Linked DNA regions of Homo sapiens: regions 2 and 3 are each linked to region 1. The links come from fine-mapping of genetic effects on gene expression. A gene starts in region 1. Each other region holds a variant in brackets. All regions are shown on one strand. Distances are from middle to middle. Region 1 holds the start of CHN2 (chimerin 2). Region 2 overlaps CHN2 (chimerin 2). Region 3 overlaps CHN2 (chimerin 2).

The links. PIP is the estimated chance that this variant, and not a neighbour inherited with it, causes the effect.
Region 2: its variant is the best candidate, but not a certain one, in a credible set for the expression of CHN2 in whole blood (TOPMed, PIP 0.69).
Region 3: its variant is the best candidate, but not a certain one, in a credible set for the expression of CHN2 in whole blood (TOPMed, PIP 0.55).

Annotation. Positions count from the first base shown.
Region 1 is chr7:29,193,102-29,195,866 of GRCh38, reverse strand. CHN2 (chimerin 2) reads right to left here and starts at 1,092. Exons shown (of 13, transcript NM_004067.4): 1 at 877-1,092. The coding sequence starts at 925. It also overlaps a transcript of CPVL not described here. RefSeq lists an enhancer at 1-439.
Region 2 is chr7:29,249,441-29,252,205 of GRCh38, reverse strand. The region is part of intron 1 of CHN2 (chimerin 2); the gene reads right to left. Among named protein-coding and RNA genes, the nearest start is that of CHN2-AS1, 42 kb to the right of the region's middle. The variant T/A (reference allele first, on the strand shown) is at 1,565.
Region 3 is chr7:29,512,105-29,514,869 of GRCh38, reverse strand. CHN2 (chimerin 2) reads right to left here. Exons shown (of 13, transcript NM_004067.4): 13 at 542-2,306. The coding sequence ends at 2,135. PRR15-DT (PRR15 divergent transcript) reads left to right here. Exons shown (of 2, transcript NR_183550.1): 2 at 1-2,765. Among named protein-coding and RNA genes, the nearest start is that of PRR15-DT, 50 kb to the left of the region's middle. The variant A/G (reference allele first, on the strand shown) is at 1,452.

The sequences.
Region 1 (2,765 bases):
AAACCAGTGGGTCTGCCTCTATTGATTCCTACTCCTTCAGATTCATTAGCAATTTTTTTCTCTTCAATTAGACCCGATGATCAACCATAGAAAAGCTGAAAGAAGCCTTCCCTTTGCTCAACCATTCTTAAAAGGAAAAAAAATGCATGCCTTGCTAGTGAAATTACAGCCACTATTATCAGAAAATCTCTAAGGAGTCTCTCTCTCTCTCTCTCTCACACACACACACACACACACTCTCTCTCTCTCTCTCTCTCTCTCTCTCTCTCTCGTAAATGTGCCAAGAGTCAGAGGATGGGCTCGACCTCTCTTCCCCTAACCCACTTCAATCAGGATCAGAAAGATACATCCCTTCATTGCTGCTGTCTAAAACCCATGCCCAAGCGAGTGTCTCCATAGAGCTAATTTCTGAAACAAACAAAGAAAATCAAGTCTGCGAGGAGCGAGGGTTTGCTCCCCTCTGCTCCGGATTTGGGTGTCCAGGGTAGCGGGCGCGGCACGGCAAACAGGTCGGGGCGCTCTGCTTCACCCCAACCTTCTCCGCCCCGCCAGCCCCCGCTCCAGCTGCGCCAGAAAGTGCGAGCCTGCCCGCTCCTTTCGCTTTTCGCTCGCTGCACTCCAAGCCCCGGAACACCCGCGTCCGCACACTAAGGGCACCACCGCTCTCCCACCTCTGCGCTGTCAGATGTCAGGCGCGGAGGTGCTCTGGGCACCGAGGTGCTGGCGAACCAAACAAGTATCACCCCGGACGCCTGCCCCCATTCCGAGAGAGCGGGCGGGATGGCCACAGGTAGGCTCTGTCCATCCCAGGCTGCGGGGCGAGGGCAGTGGGGCGAGACCCGGCGCGGCAGCAGCGCCCGACGGGCTGAAACTCACCGGAGGACACCGACGAGCCGGACAGGCTGGAGTTGCTGGACGCTGCCATCTCCGCGCGCCCCTCGCGTCGCTGCTCGCTCAGCCCCGGTGCGGACGCCGCCGCCGCTGCCCTCGCCCGGCCGCTCGCAGCCTCCGCGGCCCCCAGCCCATGGCAAAGTCCTGGGGACGCGCAGAAAGCACCAGCCTCCGGACTCTGCCTGCACTTCCTGCTCCACCAGATGACGCGCTGCCGCCGCCGCTATTTATTTGTGGTTTCCGTCCCGCTCCGCGCCTTTGCACGCTTTTCTATGGGTGTCAGGGGGTAGGTGGGAGCAGAGGGAGGCCGAGGGGCAGCCGGGACGGGCGGATCTCGGCTCCCGCCGAGCCCCTCTGCCGTCCACGCTCCCCTGTGCGCGGCTGGGACCAGGGCGTCCTGGCAGCTCCGAGCCGCCCCGCCAGCTCCCGCACCCTCTCCTGGGCTCCCGCCTCTCCCGCCGCACTTCGAGTAGACCGGGCAGAGGCGGCGGGAGACGGACAGACAGAGCGACCTCCCCCTTCTCCCTCCGCCCCAACTCCGCTCGCGCACACACAAAGGAAGAAGAGGAGACGCGGTCGCTCGGGGGGTGGTTCGGCTGCTGCGGGCTTGACAGCTCCCGCCACTGGGGCTGGAGGGGGAGGCTGCGGACTGCTGGACAGGGGGAGGCGGGACGGGGGACCGGGTCCCCGGGGTGCTGGGGAGGCCGGGGCCGGGCGCGGGGCGAGCGCGGCTGCTGCGCGCAGCGCTGCTCCTAGGATTTGAAGGGGATGGGGAGGGAGGGTGTGGGGGAAGGTGGTGGGGCTCACCGCGCCCCGCCGGGCTCTCGAGCAGCGAGACAGTGGGGGTGGGGGATCCAGAGGGCGAAGGCGGGATCACTAGGGCCACGGTGCTAGGCAGAAGGGAACCTGGGATGACAGAGCCACTATGGAGCGCTCCTTCCACTCCTCTCCAAATTGTCCTTTGTTGCTCTGGAGCTGACGGTCCCTGCCCTGCAAGAAGGTGCGTTTCCTAAAACACCCGGGAAGCCAACCCAGCTACACTTAAGTAACCCAGCCACGGACAGTGCCCGACGCGTCCGTGGGCCTCTGAGGTTGGCCTTCAAAGAAATAGAGCCGTCCAAACGTGTCATCAGGCCCACACAAAGCTGGTGTCAAAGAGAAAGAGGTTCTCCGTGCCTTGCAAAAAAAGATTCTCACAAAAGACTTAAGACTTGGCAGCAGGTCCGACTGTGCCCTTTCAGGATAGGAACTGCTCAGGTGTGTGAGAGAAAGAGACTCGAGCACAAGGTGTGTCCCTTCCCCCTGTATTTAAACCTAAATTAATTTCACTGGGAGGAAATACCATGCAGATTTTTTTTAAGTCTGTTTCACGCTCCCAGCGGGCTAATCGGTTCTTTCAATCCTAAAGCAACAGAAAACTGTGAAATTTGAAGAGAAATTGTTAGATCAAAGGAAAAAGCAAACATTAAAGGAATGAAAGTACTCTCATTATATAGCAAAAATGGAAAGTGTTCACATTGGGGTAGTTCAACTTTTTAAAACATGGTTAAAAGAACATAGTCAATTTAAAAATTATCAGGAGTGACACAGAACAGCAGCTAGGCCCTGGGGATCCACATCAACCAAGGACCTAACATACAGTGAATAATGAATGTTAAATAATCACAGTACGCACCCACGTCACATTTTCTAGTTGATTAGAACTTAAAAAAAAAAATCCCTCCAGGATACTATCCCAGTGTGTCTTCTCATTAAGGTCCATTTTTTAAAAATACACCTTGCTAAACTGTTAAAGGAGTGTGAGCACTCTTCAGTCACGTGGGACTGCGTCTTCCTACCCCTCAACTGTATGGACCTTGAAACAGCCCTGGCTG
Region 2 (2,765 bases), 56 kb before region 1:
AAAAAAAAAAAAAAAAAATCCTGTATAATCTTATGTGGTAGGTTTTATTATGCCCAATTTGCATAATGAGATCACAAGATCACATTCTAAGGTTCTGGATGGACATAAATTTGGGGGGACATTATTCAACTTGCCACAGTGGCAAAATTTTTACCTAAACCTCAGTTTCTCTCCTAGCCCAGAGCCTTTCTATTGCTGTTTGTGGGTTAATGAGAATGAATTTGGTCTATTTAAGTATATATAGCATGTGTAAGATTTTTGAGATGGATATAAAATTTAAAGCACCTTCAAAAACCACTGTCACCCTTATTTTACATGTTTGAATCTCTAAAATAAGTGCCATGCATCAAGCCCTATCTTCAATTACATATAATTAGGTTCTATTTTTGTGATGAATACCTTACTAGTTCCAAATCTGGCTTCGTTTTCACAGTTGAAAGTAAACACTCACAGTTTTCATGTACTGACATATTTCTCTTCATTTCAATCTCAGAACACTATGTTGAGGAAAGAGTGAAATCTCTGTTTATCAAATATTACTAATATGTCTGAATTATCTTATTCTCTCTGAAATTCTGTGTAAGTGTTAGTTACACGAAGTTACCTTGAAAACACTGCCTCGCATTTATTCAGTACTCACCATGTTCGGTGCTTGATATATATCTCATCCCTATAACAACACTAAAAAGTAATCTTATTAGAAGGCAGGTATTTTATTTATTTTATTTTATGTTATTTTATTTTATTTTTTTCAGACAGAATCTTGCTCTGTTGCCCAGGCTGAAATGCAGCGGCATGATCACGGCTCACTGCAGTCTTGACCTCCCAGGCTCAAGAGATCCTCCCACCTCAGCCTCCTAAGTAGGTGGGACAACAGGCACATGTCACCACACCCAGCTAACTTTTGTATTTTCTTGTAGAGACAGGATTTTGCAGTGTTGCCCAGGCTGATCTCGAACTGCTGGGCTCAAGCGATCCGCCAGCCTTGGCCCCTCAAAGGGCTGGAATTGCAGGCCTGAGCCACATGCCTGGTCTGGTATTTTATTTTAAATCATAATCCCTTGCAAAACATCCTGCATGGTAGATATATAACAAATGTTTACTGATTAACTTTAGTATTTCTATTCAATTTTGCCATCCTTGCCCATAATTAATAAGTGATCAAAATATTACTAAATTGTAAAGAAGTTCAGGCAAGCTGGGTGCAGTGGCTCATGCCTGTAATCCCACCACTTTGGGAGGCTGAGGCGGGTGGATCACCTGAAGTCAGGAGTTCGAGACCAGCCTGGCTAACACGGTGAAAGCTCGTCTCTAGTAAAAATACAAAATTAGCCTGGCATGGTGGCGGGTGCCTGTAATCCCAGCTGCTTGAGAGGCTGAGGCAGGAGAATCGCTTGAACCCTGGAAGCAGAGGTTGCAGTGAGCCAAGACTGTGCCACTGTACTCCAGCCTGGGTGACAGAGGAAGACTCTGCCTCAAAAAAAAAAAAAAAAAGAAGAAGTTCAGGTAAAAAAAGGGAAGAGTCTTCTTACTAGGTGTGGTGCTCCATGTACATTATTACACA[T/A]CAACAAGTAGGAAGCAACTTAAGGTTTAACCGGAAATCAGAGTTCCTAGTCTAAAATAGTCTAATTATTTGTAAAGTACTTTTGTATTATTTAAGGAGTCATGTTATAATTCATGAAAGTCTCATGTCTTCTGTACCTTCCTACATCAGACACCTCTGTTGCTGTTGCCTGATTCTGTGAGACATGCACTCCTTACATGGGTGAAGCATAACTAGGTTAATCTCCTATCTGTAACATTTCAGGATAAAAGGAATTTTAACTCTGTTATAGAATTATCAAAGAAGAACCCTTTGGTCATTTAAGGATTAGAAAGAAAGCACTTCTGATCCAATGAATCTCCTATCTAATTTTGGTAATGGCTATATAATTTCATTTTTGCAATGCAGATAAAAGGATATTTTTAAATGGGAATATATTGATAAAGGTGGTGCTGTAAAAGCTACAAATGGCTAATTCCTGCTCTCTTTCTTTCATCCCAGGGAGTGCCATGACATTATGCCTGTTAATAGAAATCTGAGCTAACTGATGTCTCTGGTAGTGAACAGAAGCAAATATAACAGACAACATAGTTGCAGATGAACAATAAAATCACATGTTGTGCTAAATATGGTTAAGTCGGTAAGGTCTTGGCAATGCAGATATATTCAGAAGCCTTAGACTCTCTTCACCAGGCAAGAGAGTAGAAGAAAAGGTAATTCTTACATATGGTTTTACAACTAAAATTGCCACTTGTTTAAATTCACATTTTTAAATTTTTAAAGAATGGAATTGGTTATTGGTATTCATGTCGCTACCATTCCTGAAAAGTCTTTCCTATTTTTTCCTTATAGATGTAAACTATCACAAAAGTAAATGTAATATCTGTCTTTTTTGACAATTTATTCCATAATATCTTTCACATTGGAGCGGCTATTAAGCTTAAGTTGCTTTCCTGGAAGCTGCAAGATACACGTGGATGAATACATTCTCTACACTCAAATAACCTGTAATCCAGCAGGAAAAAGACAAATGGCTTAGAGCAGAAAGGCCGCAGGACAACCTAGCGGGTTGTGACGGTTAGGTGTCAACTTGCCTGGTTAAAGAACACTTAGAAAAGAAACCTAGTAAAGCATTATTTTGGGAGTGTCTGTGAAGGTGTTTCTAGAGGACGTTGTCATGTGAGTCTGAGTGGGTTAGGTGGGGATGATCGGCCCTCCATGT
Region 3 (2,765 bases), 320 kb before region 1:
GACAAATCCTTTTCTTATGCTTCTTCCATCCCTGCTTCCATGTTATATCCTTTCCCCTTCTAAAATGGTAATAATGAGAAATAACTATTACTAATTACCCTAGAACATAAATTTCATTTAAGGTGTCACAATCAGATTATCATCTTCAGTTTTTCAGAGCCGCAAACTTCCCATGGTTATATGCAGGTAGTACTAAATGGATGGATCTGGGATCAAACTCAGGGCTTTCTGACTTTAAAAGTCTTGTTCTGCTACCCTCCAAGTGGCCTAGGGTGATTTGCCCTAAACGGTTCACCTCTGTATGATGATGCATCCATGCAGTGGGGCTTATGGAAAGTGAATGTGGAGCCTCAGGGCCTTAATCTTGAAGCAGGCTCTCTAGAAGGGAGCTTGCAGAAGGAGTGGGGACTCGATGAGATGCTGTTTTCTCATTGTGTTTCAGTGATGACTGAAAATTTGTTGCCAGCGTCTATCTGGAAACAATGTTTTGATGATCCACCACCCCATCCCTCCAAACCACTTTCTTGCACATACTCCAGAATAATAGACAGAAGAATTTAATACATGTGATGCTTTGCCTTCCATTTACACTATCATAAATTACAAAGTATTGTTCACTTCACAAAATAAAACCATTTCCAGATAATTTTTTGACAGTATCAAGAAGTACATAAACTACAACAAACAAATCTGTACAGTTGGGAGGAGGGATAATAGCAGGGAAGAGGTCAAACCTCCCTGTGCCAATGGAGTCCATCTGCATAGCCCTTGGGACTGTCCAGGTCAACAGTCACACAATGATGCTCCACGTAAAATAGTCATTCTCTTCTGCTCACTCCAAAGCAAGACTGGTGAGTTTACACAAATCATCTCAATCAAAGGAAAAGACATTGCAGTTGGATTTTTTAAAAATCTAGATTTACAGTTTTTGATGTTTTAAATATTTCACCTATGTTACAAAATATAGAAATCTTGGTGTGAAAGGCTCATGCTAAGATAAATATAACCAAGTGACTGGAACTGTAGTAATAAAATCATATTATCCACACAGAGCTACTTTTGTCAAGGAGGAACAAATATTTGGTAAAAACCAACCTTATTCTCACTTTAAAAAATAGGTTTGTAAAACAAGAATGAAAAACGTTGACAGTTATTCTGCAGATTCGCTTTTCACCAATACAGAAATGTGGCAAAAATACAATTTGATATTAACAGATGAATTCAGAGGGCTTGGCCAGGAAGAAAAGAGGGTAAGTGCTAACTTTTTACACAGACCAGATACATCCAGTGTTCTCAAATAATTTCAGGTAAAATGACCGCATTCTGTATCTTCTGGGATACACACTCATGATACGAAAAGACTATGACCAATTCCAAAGCATACTTTGGGAATTCACAAAATTTGTATGCATAGAAAGTGTGTGGACATTTCAGACCATCCTACAATTGCT[A/G]TAAATACATACCATACAATAGAAGAATGCCAATGCTTAAGAGCAAAAACTATCCAAAGCAGGAACACAAGGGGCAGGTGAAATTTCATTAAAAAGCACTGAGGAGGACAGAGGTATGTCAAGATAATACTGCATTTGTGGTCAGCTTTTTCAGGGTGTCACAGCAAAATGAGGGACAAGGTACACAGGGTAATAACCAATGCACTGCATTGAGTTCTATTTGCTAAAAATAACAACATTCTCGTGGGTAAAATAAAAATACATTTTACGATACACGTTTCATTTAACAGAATTGTCTTCTTTTTGTAAGTGGAAAATGTATAACTGTATCAAGTACCTGTATGAATTAAGTTCCCTTTTATTACCAATAAGACTGAAGTTTAAAGGTCTACATTGTTTTTTAATAAATTAAAGATGTATTAATCACTCTTCCAGCAAACCAGACATACATAGGAGGCACAGCAAAAGACCCAAGGTGAGGGGCTTCCCTCACCTTCACCCTTGTTCTCACGTGGAGGTGGCGCATGTCTATGAGACACAGTACCCCACTCAGCGATCCTCTGCAGTCCAGGAAATTCTAGCACTTGCTTGGAAAACAAATCAAGTGGTAAGAAATGTTTTTATTCCTTTAGCTGTGTCAACTTGGATGGTGCTGGGGCCATTCAGCTCATTTCCCTGATGGATTAGAATAAAACGTCTTCGTTTTCTATTAAAATCTGCACAATCAGCTTTTGGTACCGCATATCATGCAGGGTGGTCAGGGTGCTGTCCTCAGGGGGCCTCATCAGAGTGGGCCCAAACACGATCCCCAGATTTTCTGCATTCATGAAATTGTCTTTTTCATTCATAGTAACCCTGCAAAACAAACATATAGAACAGAGACATTATGGAGACTTGAGGATTGATTTTATGTATTGATTATGTATGTAAGTCCCGATAACATCTCTGGTTCAGGAAATTGCAAGAAAAAGATTGGGAATCAGAACAGCAGAAAGGTATTTTTGGAAGGGTAATTTACTGATTTTTCGTTTTAAATTGTTGACATTGCCTTCGCCGGTGGAAATGAATTACTTATGTGAATCTGGCAGGAACACAATTTTTAAAATTAGAAAATTAGTCCTCCTTATTAAGTAAATGTGGAACTATCATTTGAGGAATACTGGTTTGTAGGGGCAGCAGATTCTGAGGCTGGCCCATGGTCCTTTCATAGGCCTTATACAGAAGGCGTTTTTTTTTTCCCTCTTGTGGCTTCCTGCTGGTCTGTATGCTGGAGAGTGGGAAGGGAAGGGCAGGATCCCTCTCTGCTGGGAGGAC